Regions from separate parts of the Homo sapiens genome. Here all the other regions are linked to region 3. The links come from fine-mapping of genetic effects on gene expression. A gene starts in region 3. Each other region holds a variant in brackets. All regions are shown on one strand. Distances are between the middles of the regions.

Evidence for each region. PIP is the estimated chance that this variant, and not a neighbour inherited with it, causes the effect. A credible set is the group of variants that fine-mapping cannot tell apart.
Region 1: its variant is the best candidate, but not a certain one, in a credible set for the expression of IFT43 in whole blood (TOPMed, PIP 0.83).
Region 2: its variant is the best candidate, but not a certain one, in a credible set for the expression of IFT43 in whole blood (TOPMed, PIP 0.76).

The regions. Positions count from the first base shown.
Region 1 is chr14:76,056,122-76,061,344 of GRCh38, reverse strand. It overlaps IFT43 (intraflagellar transport 43), which reads right to left. Exons shown (of 9, transcript NM_001102564.3): 4 at 2,671-2,703; 5 at 1,972-2,018. Among named protein-coding and RNA genes, the nearest start is that of IFT43, 73 kb to the right of the region's middle. The variant AG/G (reference allele first, on the strand shown) is at 2,717.
Region 2 is chr14:76,080,461-76,085,683 of GRCh38, reverse strand. IFT43 (intraflagellar transport 43) reads right to left here. Exons shown (of 9, transcript NM_001102564.3): 6 at 3,317-3,389; 7 at 2,992-3,067; 8 at 2,395-2,457; 9 at 1,942-2,226. The coding sequence ends at 2,107. LOC105370573 (a long non-coding RNA gene) reads left to right here and starts at 5,031. Exons shown (of 2, transcript XR_007064270.1): 1 at 5,031-5,122. RefSeq lists an enhancer at 814-1,800. The variant C/T (reference allele first, on the strand shown) is at 3,092.
Region 3 is chr14:75,982,776-75,987,998 of GRCh38, reverse strand. IFT43 (intraflagellar transport 43) reads right to left here and starts at 2,236. Exons shown (of 9, transcript NM_001102564.3): 1 at 2,159-2,236. The coding sequence starts at 2,212. It also overlaps a transcript of TGFB3 not described here. RefSeq lists silencers at 1,946-2,255, 5,210-5,223 and an enhancer at 2,082-2,583.

The DNA.
Region 1 (5,223 bases), 73 kb before region 3:
TAGGATAAACACAAAGAAAACCACACCAAGGCATATTAGGAACAAATTGCTGAAAATAACTGATAATGGAGAAGAAATCTTAAAAGCAGATAGGGGGAAAGATACATTACATACAGGGGAACAAAGATAAGAATAATGATCGTCTTCTCATCAGAAACAATGTAGGCCAGGCGAGGTGGCTCACACCTATTACAGCGGGTGGATCACTTGAGGTCAGGAGTTTGAGACCAAACTGGCCAACATGGTAAAACTCTGTCTCTACTAAAAATACACAAATTAGCCAGGTGTGGTGGCATGTGACTGTAGTCCCAGCTAGTCAGGAGGCTGAGGCAGGAGAATTACTTAAACCCAGGAGGTGGAGGTTGCAGTGGGCCCAAGATCATGGCACTGCACTCCAGCCTGGACGATGGAGTGAGACCCTGTCTCAAAAAAAAGAAAGAAAAGAAAAGAGAGGGGAGGGGAGAGCAGGAAAAGGAAAGAAAAGAAGGAAGGAAGGAAGGAAGGAAGGAAGGAAGAAAGGGAGGGAGGGAGGAAGGGAGGGAAGAAAGAAAGAAGGCCAAAGACAATAAAATAACTATTTAAAATGCTAAAAGAAAAAAATTGTCAGCCTAGAATTCTGTGTCTGGTAAAAAGTTGAAGATGACATTTTCAGACAAATAAAGCAGACAGAATTTCTTGCCAGACAACCTGTTCTACAAAATAATGATAAAGTTTTTCAGGCTGAAGGAAACTGATGCCAGATAGAAACTAGGATCTACACAAACAAACAAGGAGTGTGAAAATTATAAATAAGTGTGTCTAAAAAAAAAAGGCTTTGACAATTTGGGGCCGGGCGCGGTGGCTCACGGCTGTAATCTCAGCACTTTGGGAAGCCAAGGTGGGAGGATCACTTGAGGTCAGGTGTTAGAGACCAGCCTGGCCAACATGGTGAAACCCCATCTCTACTAAAAATACAAAAAATTAGCTGGGTGTGGTGGCATGCACCTGCAACCCCAGCTACTCGGGAGGCTGAGGCAGGAGAATCACTTGAACCTGGGAGGCAGAGGTTTCAGTGAGCCAAGATTGCACCACTGCACTCCAGTCTGGGTGACACAGCGAGACTCTGCCTCAAAAAATAATAATAATAATAATAACAATAATAATTTGGATCCCCTACGTAATCTCCTCCCTAGAAGGCTTCATTTTAGAGACACACACAAACTTCATCTTTTCTCCTGATATTTGAACATAGGCTTCCACTGTGCCACAGCTACTTGCCTTGTTAGTACTGTTTTCCCTGCGTTTATATAGCTAGCCATTAACTAACTACTATGCGTCACACACTGGAGATGCAAAGATAAAGAACATGTGTTGTCTGCCATCAAGAAGCTTAGAGGTCTGGTGGGAAAACAATCAAGCCAACAAAGAGTTAAAGCACAGTACATCCTAACTGTACTCAAATCCTGGCTCTACTCACTTAGCAACTGTGTGACCTTGGGCAACTTACTTAACCTCTCCATGCCTTCGTTTCCACAACTGTAAAATGGGGATAATAGTAGTACTACGGGGTTGTGGTGAGAGAAAATGCTTTAACATGTGTAAACTGGAAGGACAGTGCTTGGGATATAGTCAACACCTAGTAAATATTGGCCATGTTATTACAATGTTGGTTTGCCAAGGAGGTTAGAGGAGCATGGAGAAAGAACATCCAGTGAGAGAGGGAGTGGGATGGGAAGGGAAGATGTTTCAGGGGAAGTGATGCTTTGGCTGACCTTTTGAAGGATAAGCAGGGTTATCAGATAAAGAAGGGAGAGATACTCCAGGTAGAGGTGGCAGCATTCAGCAAGGCATGAAGATGTGCATCAGCATGCGTCAGAAGACCACTGCAAATGTCTTCAGTGATGCTGCAGCCAACAGTGCCTTAGCTGTAGCCCAGGAAATGTTCTGGGGCCTCTCTAGAAGACCTTTTGACTTCCTCCAAGGGCCTCTTACCTCCTCCATAATCTGATCCATTCAGGCTCTGTGGTCTGAGGCGGAAACTGCCCCCAAAAAAGAAGAAAAGGACAGCAAAAAATGAGTTTCAAACACGGAAAGGAACATCCCAAATGTTTATTGTATCCATTCTTTCTCCTAGATGAAAATGTCCCTGAACCTGTTTTTCTCTGTCAACTTAGTCAAACCTAATTAGGCCACTGGGTGTGCCGTGTGTGGTTGCACAGGCTGTGCGATGCACTATTCCAGAGGACAGCATCACAGAGGCTATGACATGAATGCAGCTTCCGCCCCTGGGAGTAGGAAACTGGGTGGCCCTACCTTCACAGCACCTTTATCTAGAAAACTTCTTTCTTTTCTGATATAAGTCTTATGAGAAGGCAAGGCTTAGAAGCTGGTATTGCTTCTGCCCATCTATATCAATAATGCAGAAGGCATGGGCCAGTACCCTGATACCTGGACATATAATTCTAAAACCACACAGTGGGAGATAGGACATGGGCATCAATGCCAGGGTCCAGACCTTCAGTTGAGGAAGCGGGATTAACCAAACCTTGGATTCAGCAGGCATCAATAATTCTAGCCCCAGACTTCTAACACAGTGTTCAACATAGGTGGAACAGATCATGACCACCAAGACTGCACTGTTGACCAAGATCAACATAGGATACCATAAGAATAAGAATACTGGAAACGTACTCTTCTATTTCTTCAGAAGCCTTCCTCCTAAACCTGAAAAAAAAAA[AG/G]AAAAGACAAGGTTTTTGAGAGCCCACTAGTCTCATGCACCAGGTAGTATCTTGAGGAAGGTTTCAAAAGTGGAGGCAAATTAGTATATCTCAAGTGCTTTATTTGTCTGCAGTCCTCTTTAGAGACAAGCCCCACAACCAGCATGAGAGAACTGAAGATGCTGTAGTGCCTTCTTACAGCTTTATGTCAGCCTCACTCCAAATTGGATTGTTGAGAGTGTAAGTGCAGGTTGAGCGAGTGGCTTAAAATTCAAATAGATACAGATGATTCAGTGCCCTCTTTTCTTTCAGCAATTAACTGACTGATTTATAGAGTGCTTTCTTAGGACTGAGACCCTGGGTCTTATTTGGTGTTGTTAGCTGTCAGCACTTGCGACTTGCAACGAGCAAAAAGGGATGTCCTCGCCTCGCAGTTCAGGCTTCAGACTTTGGAACTGCTTTTCTGTGCCCTTCACACGAAGGACGAGAGGACCTTCTGAGTGATGGTGGGTGAGGAGTGACAGGGCCTGGCTGATACACGCGTATCTATGGTAGTGGTTCTCACACGTCAGGGTGCATAAGAACCATCCGCGGGGCCTGTTAGATACACAGATTGGTGGGCCTGGCAGGGAGATTTCTGAATCAGCTGGTCTGGGTGGGTGGGGGCAGCCCAGGAATATGCATTTTTAAATTCTAATCTAAGTGGGTCACTACTCACACTCTGAGAAACACTGATGTGAAGTTTTCTAATAAGACTGGCGAAATGTTGATGATTATTAAAGTTGAATATTGGGTACATGGAGATTACATTTTTGTATGTCTGAAAACTTCCACTATTCTGTCATCATAGGGTTTTTTGTTTGTTTGTTTTAAATGAGTTATTTGAAGTCAGAAATCTAGCACCATGATGAGCAAGAGCAAAGGATGGGGGCAAAGGGCGGCAAATGGCCTGGAGGCAGGATGTAGACCTTGACAGGGTAGGCCACCAGCCTTGCCAGTAAGAATTGGTTTCGAGGAGCCAACCAGCAATTCTTGCAAAACGCAAATAACTCCCCCTGCCAAAAGTAGAATTCTACATTCATTTTTTTTTTTTTTGTCAATTAAAAAATAAAAATTTCAGCCAGGCACAGTGGCTCACGCCTGTAATTCTAATACTTTGGGAGGCCAAGGCAGGTGGATCATTTGAGGTCAGGAGTTTGAGACCAGCCCGTCCAACATGGTGAAACCCCATCTCTACTAAACATACAAAAATTAGCCAGGTATGGTGGTGGGCACCTGTAATCCCAGCTACTCAGAGGCTGAGACAGGAGAATCGCTTGAACACGGAAGGTGGAGGTTGCGGTGAGCCAAGATCACGCCATTTCACTCCAGCCTAGCAACAGAGTGAGACTCCGTCTCAAAAAAAATAATAATATAAAATAAAATAATTAAAATGATTTTAAAAAGTAAGTCAAAGTTTAAATAGACTGCTTTCCATGGAATTTAGACTCTATCAACTGTACCATTTTTAAAAAGGAAGAATGACGGCTGAAGTGAGGTGGGAGAATGGGTAGGTCAAGCTGGAAGAACAGGGTGTAACAACTCTAAGGGAATCTCCCAGGCTGCAGTTTCTGACCCTTAAAGAGAGATAAAGGAGACTCAGCAATGAAGGTTATGAGGGCAGAAGGAGACAGAATGGGTAGTGGGAGGCACCAAAGAGAAACCACTGCAGGGTGCCCAGGGCATCCCCAGCCTGGTGTTGCTGGATGCTATAGGCTTCCAATGCCTATTCTAAGTAAACGGAATCCTAAAGGAAGAGCACCCAGTAGCCATCAAAGCCACCTTCTGTCTGTGTGGGAGGACAGAAGCTGTCTTCCCAGTTCACGCCGTCCCCAAGGACCAATGCCTCTAATTGTCCTCATGAAGTTAAACTCTATACCCCCATTGTCCGAATGACACAGCTAATGTCACCAAGGGTAGATGTGCTTGGATGAAAACAGGGATAAAAGAAGAATCCCGGGATTAAAGAGGCTAGGAAGGAAGGCTGGCGCCTTCGTTGTGTACATAAGAGACATATTTGTCTCCAATTACCCTCAGGAGTTATGACCGAATCGTTCCTTCCCTACACAATGTGCGGTGGCAAAACCAGTGGCGATTCTGTCTGAAGGAAACAATAATGATAATGCTAATCTTTCGGGGGAGGCTGATTAATTGCCATTTATCCACTCAATATCCAAAAGGGGGATGAGTTTAATATTCAGCTTAATTGCTGCTGAGCCCACATCCTGCTCTCTCACTCTAGGGGGAGCCCAAGGACTCTCCCCTCTCCCTTTTCTCCCAACAGAGGAAGGAAGAAAGATCAAATGGAGTCCTCAAGGACGGGCAGCAGGGATGCCCTCAGGTGGCGTGTTCTCTCTCATTCTCTCTCTCTGCCAGAAATAACGGGTTCTGGGAGCGCACTGAGTGGGATGGTGCGCCCTGCCTCTGATCTGGGTCACAGACCGAACACTGGCCACTTCCCAGCCTTACCTAGCCTGCAGATGAGTTT
Region 2 (5,223 bases), 98 kb before region 3:
AAGGAAGGTATTTTCCATGTCAGATGAGAACTGGGCGGTCATAGATTCTGCAACATCCCATTCCTCTGGCACCCTGAAGCCATGATGAGCAAATGCTGGGTAAAGGAAGAAGCCCAGACAGGACATGATCAGGGCACAGGACAAGTGAAAGGAGACTCAGTCACATGTGGCCTGGACCTGATTTGGCTGAGCTCAGTTTGCTCAACGTAGAGCTGCTCCTACCCAGTCCCACTGCCCTGGGGCCAGGACTCTTGAGCTCACCTATGTTGCCAGGCTTCACACCAGGGGACTGACAGAAGCCCTCTGCTCTGTGGTCACTCCACAGACAAGAGTGGGGACGGGGAGGGGTGGTGGCAGTGGACTTCTTTCTCCCAGTGAACTTGTAAATTCTGTCTGCTATAAACTAGATTACTTTCCCAAGATGAAGGCAGCAGTGGGTAACAGAAACACAGGTGGTAAAGCGCTGTGGCATCAGAACTTGGAATTCCAGCTCTGCCACTCAGCTGGATAATCTTGGGCGATCTCTTAACCTCTCTGAGTCTGTTTCCTCATCTGTAAAATGGGATAACCACAGCATCTGCTTTACTGGGAGGCTGTGAGGATGAAATCTGATCATTCCTGTGTGCTGAACCCAGCACCTGGCATGCAGTGAGAGCTCCATGTTAGATCTTGTTGCTGCTGTTGTAAAATAAAGGGAGAAAGGAAGTCAGCCCCTAGCCACTTGCTCAGGCTGGCTGGAGACCTCCAAGGTTATCAGAGTCCTGAGGCAGTTGGATTTCCAGTAATTAAGGGAGTAGAAATACAGCCTTTCTCCTTTGGGTTTCAGACTGATGTAGACTCAAGCAAAACTAGCCTGGATGGAAACTTTTCAGTGGCCATGGGAATTATTCCAAAGAGGGGCTGCCTGGGCTAAAAGTGTGACTCTGGAAAAGGAGGAAATGGAACCCTAAAGCCACTAAATCCCCGAGTTTATAATTAACAGACAAGCATTCGCTCTGCCTGTTCTGGAGCCATGTGGCTCGCCGGGGAAGGGCACCGTAGTCACACAAAAATAACCCCCCAGTGGGTTTTTGATGTGTTGAGCCTCTTTGTTTTTCTGAATTTTAATGAAGGGCTTTCCAGGCAGGATAACAGAAGCACTCAGCGCTCCCTATGGCCGGGGAGTGGGCCTTAGTTAGCTGCTGCCAGCCTAACCCAAAGCCGCATCCAAGAGAAGCAGGCAGCGAAGGGGCTCTGTCCTCAGATAAGAAGTCTCAGGGAGGAAAAGAGAAAAACAAAAACAAAAGACAGCTCTGTTTAGGAGAAGGGTGGGACTCTGCTCCTGATCTCAGCACATCTTGGAACCAGGCGGTTATAATACTTGCAGCGGTGGAGATGGCTGCAACGTATCTAAAAGGATAAGGAGAAGGGAGGCCCAGGCTCTGTAAGAGAGGGCTTCCATGGAATTCTCAGGGCTGCTGGCTGGCCCCTTCCCATGAGAATCAGAAATGAGGCTCTGGGAACCTGTAGAAGCTTTTGGAGCTCAAGGCATGGACTGCAGGAAGAGGGGAGAAAGGAGAATATTGTCACAACAGCCACCAAACCCTGATGCGAGTGAAGAATGAGTCTCCTTATCCCTCCCGCCGCCTCCTCCCTCCGCTGCAGCTGCCTGGAAGCCTATGATGCAGGTGGCAGTGCTGCGTCACTAAGGTCACAAAGGGCCCAGAGCACCCACGGGAAGGGAGGCCCCGCCCCAGAACCCCAGCAGGCAACTGTTTGAAACCTCCCGAGAAGTGAACAGCTTTCAGTAGGAGTGCCCACTCCTTCTCCGCCTGAATCGAACTCTCCCACATGCTCCGCAACAAGGCCGCGAGTTCTGAGTTCCTATCAGCTGGTTTAAAAGCTGTTCTCCTTCACTTGTGATACATTTTCCAAGAAGAGACTGGAAAGAAATGGAGGAGATGGCACAGAATAAGCAATTTATTGCAATTGAATTATCCAATGTGGTTGACTGAATATAAATATTTTTATTACAAAATATTCCAGGTAAAAATTCGGAGCTGCTTACAAGCTTCTTTAGCTTTAAGCTCATTGCATTTCTTCATGTCTAGAGCATGGGTGACGGGCTCAGGTGTGCCTGGCCTGCCCCGCAGGGTCCTCCTTCTCCGTCTGCAGTGGGTCCCACTCAGTGAGGACCTCTGAGGACACCTCAGTGAACAGATGGTCCCAGTCCCAGCCGACATCATCCTGCCAAGAAGGGTTTCGCTGGGTAAGACAAAGAAAGGCCTTTTCCCTCAACTGTAGCTGACTTCTCCCTCCCATCCAGGCCTCAGGGAGGCACAGGCCAGCCCGGGAGTCGGCTGGTTATGGGAATGCCAGAGCTGAGAGACCGGGGAATTGCTGCCACCACTGTACCTCCCGGACTTCGTGCTCCGGCGCGAGCACTTTGGTGAGGAGTTTCAGGTCGATCTCCCCATCCTGTGAATGCAAACAAAAAAAGGTCAGGCTGAGCACCTTGAGGGCTTTCAGGCAACTCTTTCTCACAAAACCGGGATCAGTTTTTGTGTGTCAGAACTTCCCAAACTGAGACCTGCAGGAATGCCTTCACAAGAGAGTAAAATCATGAATGAACCACATGCCCACTGAGAAATGAGGGAAGGCTATGCTTCCCACATGCTGGGCGTGCTTTGGGGCAAAGGACCATACCAGGAGGACCGAGTGTGACAGCAGTACAGCCACAGGGACAGAGGGGAGTGGGGTGCCATCAGGTGCCAAGTGGGCAGCCATGGAGGCAGGTGGGAGCCTGGCACTGAGAAACACTGTACTATGTTGGGTCCAGGGTTGCTGTGAGATGAATGATGATAAAACCTGCAGCAGAGGTATGGGTGCCAGGCAGGCAGCCTCAGGGGACTGGTGGAGGCGCTGTATAGCTTGGGAGGAACTGAGAAATCTCTACGGATTGAAGCCCATTGCTTGGAGCCCGCCTCTCTATGCAGAAGCTGTTCCACTCACCAGTGTCTGAATGGCTGAGTACTTCATGAGGTCATTGTCCAGGTCACGGTAGGTCATCACCCGCTTTATCTGGATGCTGAAGGAAAGAGAGAGCGAGAGG[C/T]GGGAACCCCAGGCAGGACCTGTTCCAGGAGTGCTGCCGGGCCACCGTCCCCAGAACCTTGTATACAGCAGGGGATGACCAGAATGGGAATAACAAAATGGGAACCCTGGATGGAGCCCAACACCAGAAAGATCCAGATTGACATCAAGGTCCACTATAGATGATATCTGGAGTGTATTAATTCACGTGTTCTTTGCCTCCCCAATCATATCTGATTTAACCTACCTGGGAGGGGCTGCCACCTGCAAAACAAAGTCTTCTTCCTGTACTTCCTCCAGATCCGGAATGATAGGAATATCTGCAAGGAGAGGCAGAGGCAACACTGTCTGCAGAACTCATAGGGATTGTGCCTGCTTCTCCACTTCTTACTCATTCCCCTTCAACACACCAGCCATGGGGCTGTGGGCTGGGGCAGGAAGGACACTCAGATACAAACTAGGGGTAGGATCAAAGGTGGAGTTTCAACGATGTCTGAATCCCAGGCCTCATTCCAGAACCTGCTGAGATAGAACCTCCTGGGTCACGCTCAAGCATCCAGATTTTTTTCCCAGGCGTTCCTTGGTGATTCTGACGCGTGCAACAGGTTAGAAGCCACTGCAGTGGATCTCCAAGGAGAAATGTAAAGAAATAAATGTAACAAAGGGCTTATTAGAGGAAAGAAGAGGAACTGACAAGTGAGCCTGGCATGGTCAGAGACAGAGGAACTGAGAACATGTAGTGTCACAAAGCGGATGCCGCAGTGAGTGCCACTCCTCATGACCCAGATCTCTATGTGCATTAGCCCCGCAGTGCAATCATCAGGGCCCTCAGCCTGCATCTCAAGGGCATCTTCCATCTAATGACATAGCCTGACTCCCTGGGATCCAGGCGTCCATTTGCCAGGTCTAATGTAATCAGGGATGCTGATTCTACAATCATGCTTTTCTTGCTGTCTCAAGATTTTCCATCTCTGAACTCTCCAGACAACATACGAGGAGACACGAGGCCATTTCTTCCACCAGTCCAACAAAATCATGCAAACAGAGAACTGGGAAACCAGTCCATCCCTTAATTGTGGCAACTTGCTTAAGTGACCAAAAATTGTCCATGTTCTCATGGGTCAACCTAACATCCTAAAGAAACATTTCCTTCTCCAAGTGAGTATCACTGACTGGTTGAGACATTTTGTTTTAAACGGTCAGGGGTGGGGGAGAAGGGAGGGATGGTGCAAGAAAAAAGGCCTGGTGGGGTGAGACAGTCCTGGAATTCCCAAAGCAACTGTAAACACGGAAAGAAGGAGAAATCCCAAAGGTAGACTGGTGAAGACATCTTTCATTTCTGCTTTCATGGACTGAATTCAATCTTAGTTTTCAAAGAGGTGCAAATCATTTCAACAACAGCTGAGAAGGCCCTTGCCACTTTCAGGCAATTCGTGATTTCGACTTTTGATCACTCTAGTCAAGTGACGCCAGAGGATGGAAATGTCAGTTCCAAGCCTGGTGTCTTTATTATGACTTCCGACTGTGGAGGCACAGATGTTGTACCTGGAAAAAGAGAGCATGCAAAGGAGAGACAGACACAGAGAAAATTCAACAGAAAGAGACAGGCAGAGAAAACAAGGGATAAAAAGAGTGAAAAGGGATAAAAATAGAAAGAAATTGCTGCTAGGGAAAATAAAGCAGAGACACATCCACCACCCCCCAAATAATGAACCACATTTAGCAAGTCTTATAGCTAGAAAGAAGCTGTTCAGAGCTTAGATTATATCTCTCTATCCTGCTAGAGAATTGGAGATGGAATGCTCTAAGATTCTATTTCTTATGCTAATAGAAATTTAGCTTTCTTTTTCCCTCTCGTTCTACGTGATTAATACAGTCCATTGTGCAGGCTGCTGAGAATGCCGTTCCCCAGGCTGGTAAGACTGCACAGGCCCTATGGAGGGACAGAGAGGAAGCTGGCTGTGCCACGCACCATCGGCAGTGTGACAGTTTTGGAGTGTGCCTGGCTCTCCTCGGGTGCAGAATCCAGCCTGAGATGAATATTCAGAAGTTGGTAAGAAAATGCACTGTGCTGAGTTTAGGGCTCAGGACAGGGTCTTCCCAAACTCCCCTTTCCCTCCACAACTTTAGCATTTGGGTCCTGTCAACTCTGCC
Region 3 (5,223 bases):
GCAGCTTGGCATGAAAATCATTATCAAACAGGCTTTTGGAAAGAATTCCTAAATTCCATGGTAAATGGAAAACAGCATTTGCTCTGATATGTACAGTAACTGGGTTTGCCTTTACAGACATTAAGGGAAATCTAGTACAAGAATTTTGAGACATTATCTTTGGAAATCAGAGCACTTCAAAATTCTTGGCCATCAAATGAATCATTTGCAGGTGTTTCCCAAGGCCCTCCGGTGGAGACTCTGCCTCTAAGGCTTCCCAGCACATAAACAAAACTTTATTTAGTCAGACTCTTGGGTGCTGAAATATTTATACTTTTGCTTACTTTGTTTAAAAAAAACAGCATTAATATAAGCACTTTTAGATCTCATTTAATGTGGCTTCCTTTGATTCTCACAATAATGGACAGAAACTGAGACTGCTGTCATTTTACAAAGGAGGAAACTGAGGCCTAGGAAGGTGATGAAGTGGCTGACATAAACCTAGGAGCAAAGCCTTCTGATTTCAGATCCTGGGTTTCCTGGGTGCTTTCCACTCTACCCTGCTGAAACTTGTTTTAAGATGTTCTAAGGACTGACTGCCCCACTAAACTGAGAGGGGTTACAGAAGAGCTCGTAAAAACTCTTATGCAATGTCGACACTTCAAATTGTAGTGTCATTTAGGTTTCAGGGATGGTGGAAACAATCTTTCTGATAATAAGCAGCTTATTTTCTTCTCAAGTCAGACAATTCCATCCCTTCACCATGGTTGCCCTTTTCCATTTGTCACAGCACTGAGTATCTGAATACAGCATCCTACATATGGCGGTTGTGCTAAAACAAAAATTCAATGATCTTGTCGCTAAATGCTGTTCACAGGTGTTTTCTCTAATAATTTTTAAGTATTTCAAGGTTTTAAACTTTTTGAAGACCCTGTATAGATCCATAGGGTAGAAAAACTTCTTTACTGCCTGATTTTTGTGTATGTTAAATGTAGTCTATTTATTGCCCATCTTCTCCCACTACAACATAATCACATGAGGGCAGGAACTTTGCTTTATTCATTGCTGTATCTCCAGCACCTAGGACACTGCCTGATACACAGTAGGGGCTCAATAAATATTTGTTGAATGAATGAATAACTACATTCACATCCCCAGGTACTAAAAAACATTCACGTATCAGCAGGCCTGGTGACCTTCAAAACACTTAGAGATTTCACAGCAGACACTAAAGACTTGCTCTGGGGCCCAATCTTTTAGTAAGTGCGATCCTAACCAGTTTTAAAGATAAAAAGGCCTGATGGGGGTTACAAAGGAGGAAGGTAGACACTGAACTTGGGTCTTGAATCTAGCTCCATTATTTACTAACTATAACGCTGGGTAAACCACAGCCTCATAGGCAGCAGTAGCTAACCTCTTCTGACCTCTTCCGTGATAACATATGCCAAGCACTGAGTTACACGCTTCCCATGTATTGTTGCATTTCCTTTTCACTGTAACACCTCCATTCTAGGCATAAGGAAACCAAGGCTCGGAAAGGTTAAATCGTTTTTTAGGTTTTTTTTTTTTTTTTGAACCCAGGCAACAGCTCTATGCTCCATCTGGCCTCAGTGCCTGAGCACCTAATCACTCCCTCACGTTACAAATCGGTCTTGGTTTCCTTAACTACTGAGGTAACTGAGGTTAACTCCCACCTCCCCACGGGGATTACCGGGAAGAAAGGCCGTCCCTGCCTGCCTCCCTTCCATGCATAAAACAGTGCGGCTTTTGCAGGAACTTCTGCGACGAGGTGTCCCAAAGGAAAAACTCTAGGATGGGAGCGAGTGCGACCCCGGCCGGGGCTCCCCTATCACCCTGTGATCGATCTGTTCTGGGGAAGTTCGCACTCGGGGCTCTAGAAAACGGAGAAAGGCTCGGAAATTTCCCACGGTCCTAGACGCCGGCGGGGACAGGGTGTTTTCTACTTTCTGAGGATTTTAAAGAAAGCAAACCCCAGGCCAGCAGCGGCGGAGCCCACAGTGGCCTGGGGGCGGGGCGGTGAGGCTGCCTCCTTCTGGGCCTCACCCGGCGCGGCGCGAGGCCTGCCGCCCTGAGTCGCCTCAGAGAAGTCGGGGCCGGCGGGGTCGCTCCTCCCCACCCGCCAAATCCTGGCCCCCAAGGCCCCCGAATTGGTCCTCACGGAGGTAGCCAAGCTGTAGCGAAGCTCCTCGTCCAAGTCGAGCAAATCCTCCATCTCCGCGGCCGCCTGACGTCACTTCCTGGAAACCGACTGGCCCAGACGCGTCCCTGCTAACAGCCCCGCCCCTCCACCCCAATTTTTAAAGGGTACGCAGCATGGTTCCTGGATTCTGTGTGCCATCCTCCAAACTACCGAATCTTTCTTAAATCTGCCTTGCTTGACATCTGGAAGCAACCTCCGGTTATTAAAACTCGCCAACGCTGCTCCTGCGAGACGGTAAAATAATTTGGTCGTTAGGAACTGTCTGTATTTGTAGCTCTGTTTAAATATATCAATATATTAAGTGCAAAGCACTACTACTGCTATACTGATGCCTCCCACTTGTACAGCTCTTTGCAAGGTACAGAAGGCCGTCACAGTTATTGGCTTAACGTGAGGGGCATTAACAACCTTGTGTGGGAAGCAAGATAAGTGGTATTGTTTCCATTTGACAGATGAGAAAACAGGGAATCAGGTGTAATAAATGGTTTACCATGAATTATGGAAACTGCAATATACATAATCTCTGCCTTCAAGAAGTTTACAGAGAGGCTGAATCAACACATCAAATAGCTGAGTAGTAATAACTTTCAAAAGTACAAATATTCAATATCTCATTAAATCCCAATAATCCCGCAAAGTGAGTAGCAGTAGTATCTCTAACACAACAATAAAGCACACTGAGGTACAAAGAAGGGGCTTGAGGAAAATCACCTAAGTGCCAAGCAGCAGAGCCAAATGCCCTTCTGACACCAGACATTACTGGAGTATTTATCTCCAGCACATACTACTGGGTGCCAGCCATTCTCCTAGGCTGGCAGAGGGAGATGTACCACAAATTCCCAGCCTAATGGGGCATTTAAGTTGCGTCTTTGTTGACTCTTCATATGAGATCTCCAAGTCAATATCACTGGCCAGGTCCCTGACACTGGTTGGCTGAGATCCATAGGAGATGGGCTGATAGCCCTGAAAGCAAACAACATTCCAGTATTATGTTGAGGGGAAGGCCTGGATGGACACAGGTTAAAAGCAAGGATTCGGAAGTGGGAGTAGCACCCCTGAAACCTCATTGCAAGCATTTCTTAAATATCCAGTAAATCACTCAGTTCAGTCACACATGTTACTGGATAGGACTGTGTGTTAGCATGCCTGTGACAGCAAGAGCACTGGCCTGGATATCAGAAGAGCTGTGTTCTCATCTTAGCTCTCCTGAAAACTACCTGTGTAGTCAGAGCAGAGCCCTTTCCGCTATCAGTTTCCTCCCTTGTAATTACTTTAGAGATTATCTCTAAGATCCTTTGTTAACTTGCTTCTCAGTGAGAATACTTTGTTAGATTTTAATCTGAAGAAACACTCATTGCCAAAAATCCAAGACAGATGAAATATAGGCTCCAATGAATCCCTTGTTCCCTTCTTCTTCGGCACCAGATGAGGAAGAAGGGATTAATCTTTGGATTTTTCCATTTCTTGTAAGCTCACAGCATACGACCATCACCTTATAGTCAGTTTCCAGACCTTCACCCCCACTTCTTCCCCAACTTGCTGAAAACAGAAGGCAAATGGTCCTCACTCTGGGCAGAGAGGTACCCTGCAGTAGTAGCTTCCAGAACTTGCTTAGCACCTGAATCACGTGTGAGGTTTGTAAAGAAACAGAGATGCCAGGGCCTCAGCTCTGGAGACTGATTTGGTAGAGGTGGAGTCCAAAAAAGTATAACTTTAATAATTTTCCTTCCTATCTTGCAACTGTCTGCTCAAAGGCCTTCCCTTATCACCCTATTTGAAACTGCAACATCCCCCAACCTAGGCACACCCCATCCTCCTTCCCTGCTTGATTTTCTGCCACACCACATTTGTTTGTTTGCTTGTCTGTTTGAGACACGGTCTTGCTCTGTCGTCCAGGCTGGAGTGCAGTGGTGCAATCTTGGCCCCCTGTAAACTCTGCCTCCCTGGCTCAAGTGATTATCCTGCCTCAGCCTCCCAAGTAGATGCCTGCGCCAACATGCCGGGCTAATTTTTCCATTTTTTTGTAGAGACTGGGTTTCGCCGTGTTGCTGGGGCTGGTCTCGAATTCCTGAGCTCAAGTAATCCTCCTGCATGGGCCTCCCCAAATGCTGGGATTACAGGCGTGAGCCACTGCACCTGGCTCAGCACTTTTTACCGTACTACATCATTTACATATTTATTTAGTTTATCGCCTCCTCCACTGCCCCACCCCTGCCTCTAAAATAAAATTTCCCTGAGGGCAGGAGTTTTGTTTCGTTCACTGATATTCTTCACAGAGCCTAGAATAGTGCCTGGTATATAGTAAACATTAAACTTTTTCTGAAATTTCAGAGGCAGTATAGCATAGTAATTAAGTCCAGAATCTGGCAACGTCCTGGGTCCAAATCCCAACAGCTGACACCTAATAACTATGTGACCTTGGGCAAGTTACTTTTAAAGTTTCTACCCCTAGGTTTCCCATTGGTTTTGCAAATGAAAGTAATGCCTACCCAAGCTAGATAGCCTGTGTAAAATATCGCCTCCATCACTCACAAGCAGTGTGGTCTGTAAAAAAAAAAACAAAAAACTCTATGCCTCAGTTTCCTCATCCGTAAAGTGACCCACCGCTGTGCTGGGATACAGAGAACAGCCCCTTCAGTTAGTGGCCTGGAAGCCAGACCTCTCAGAAAGGGTCCAGGAAGGCTGGAGTGAGATGGGGTGGGAGCGGCACTCACTCTCAGGAAAGTTCAGTTCAGAGGCAAGCCCTGTGTTGCGGGGTGCGGGGAGCCACGTGCCCTACCCTCCCTTGGCTGCTCGTGGGAAAAGGCCTAGAGGTTCGGGCCGAGAAGAGGAGCGAAAGCACAGAGCCGACTTCCCCTCACCCATCTGGGAAATGGGCTCGGGCCAACTGCTGACTTCGCGCTCGCTGGCGCAGCTCCCTGCGGAGACCTCGGCGGGGAGGGAGGCTGAACATCTGGATGACATTTCTGCGAGAGCGGCTCCGGAGCGGCGGTCGGGGAGGGAGAGGTGCGCTCGTGCGCACG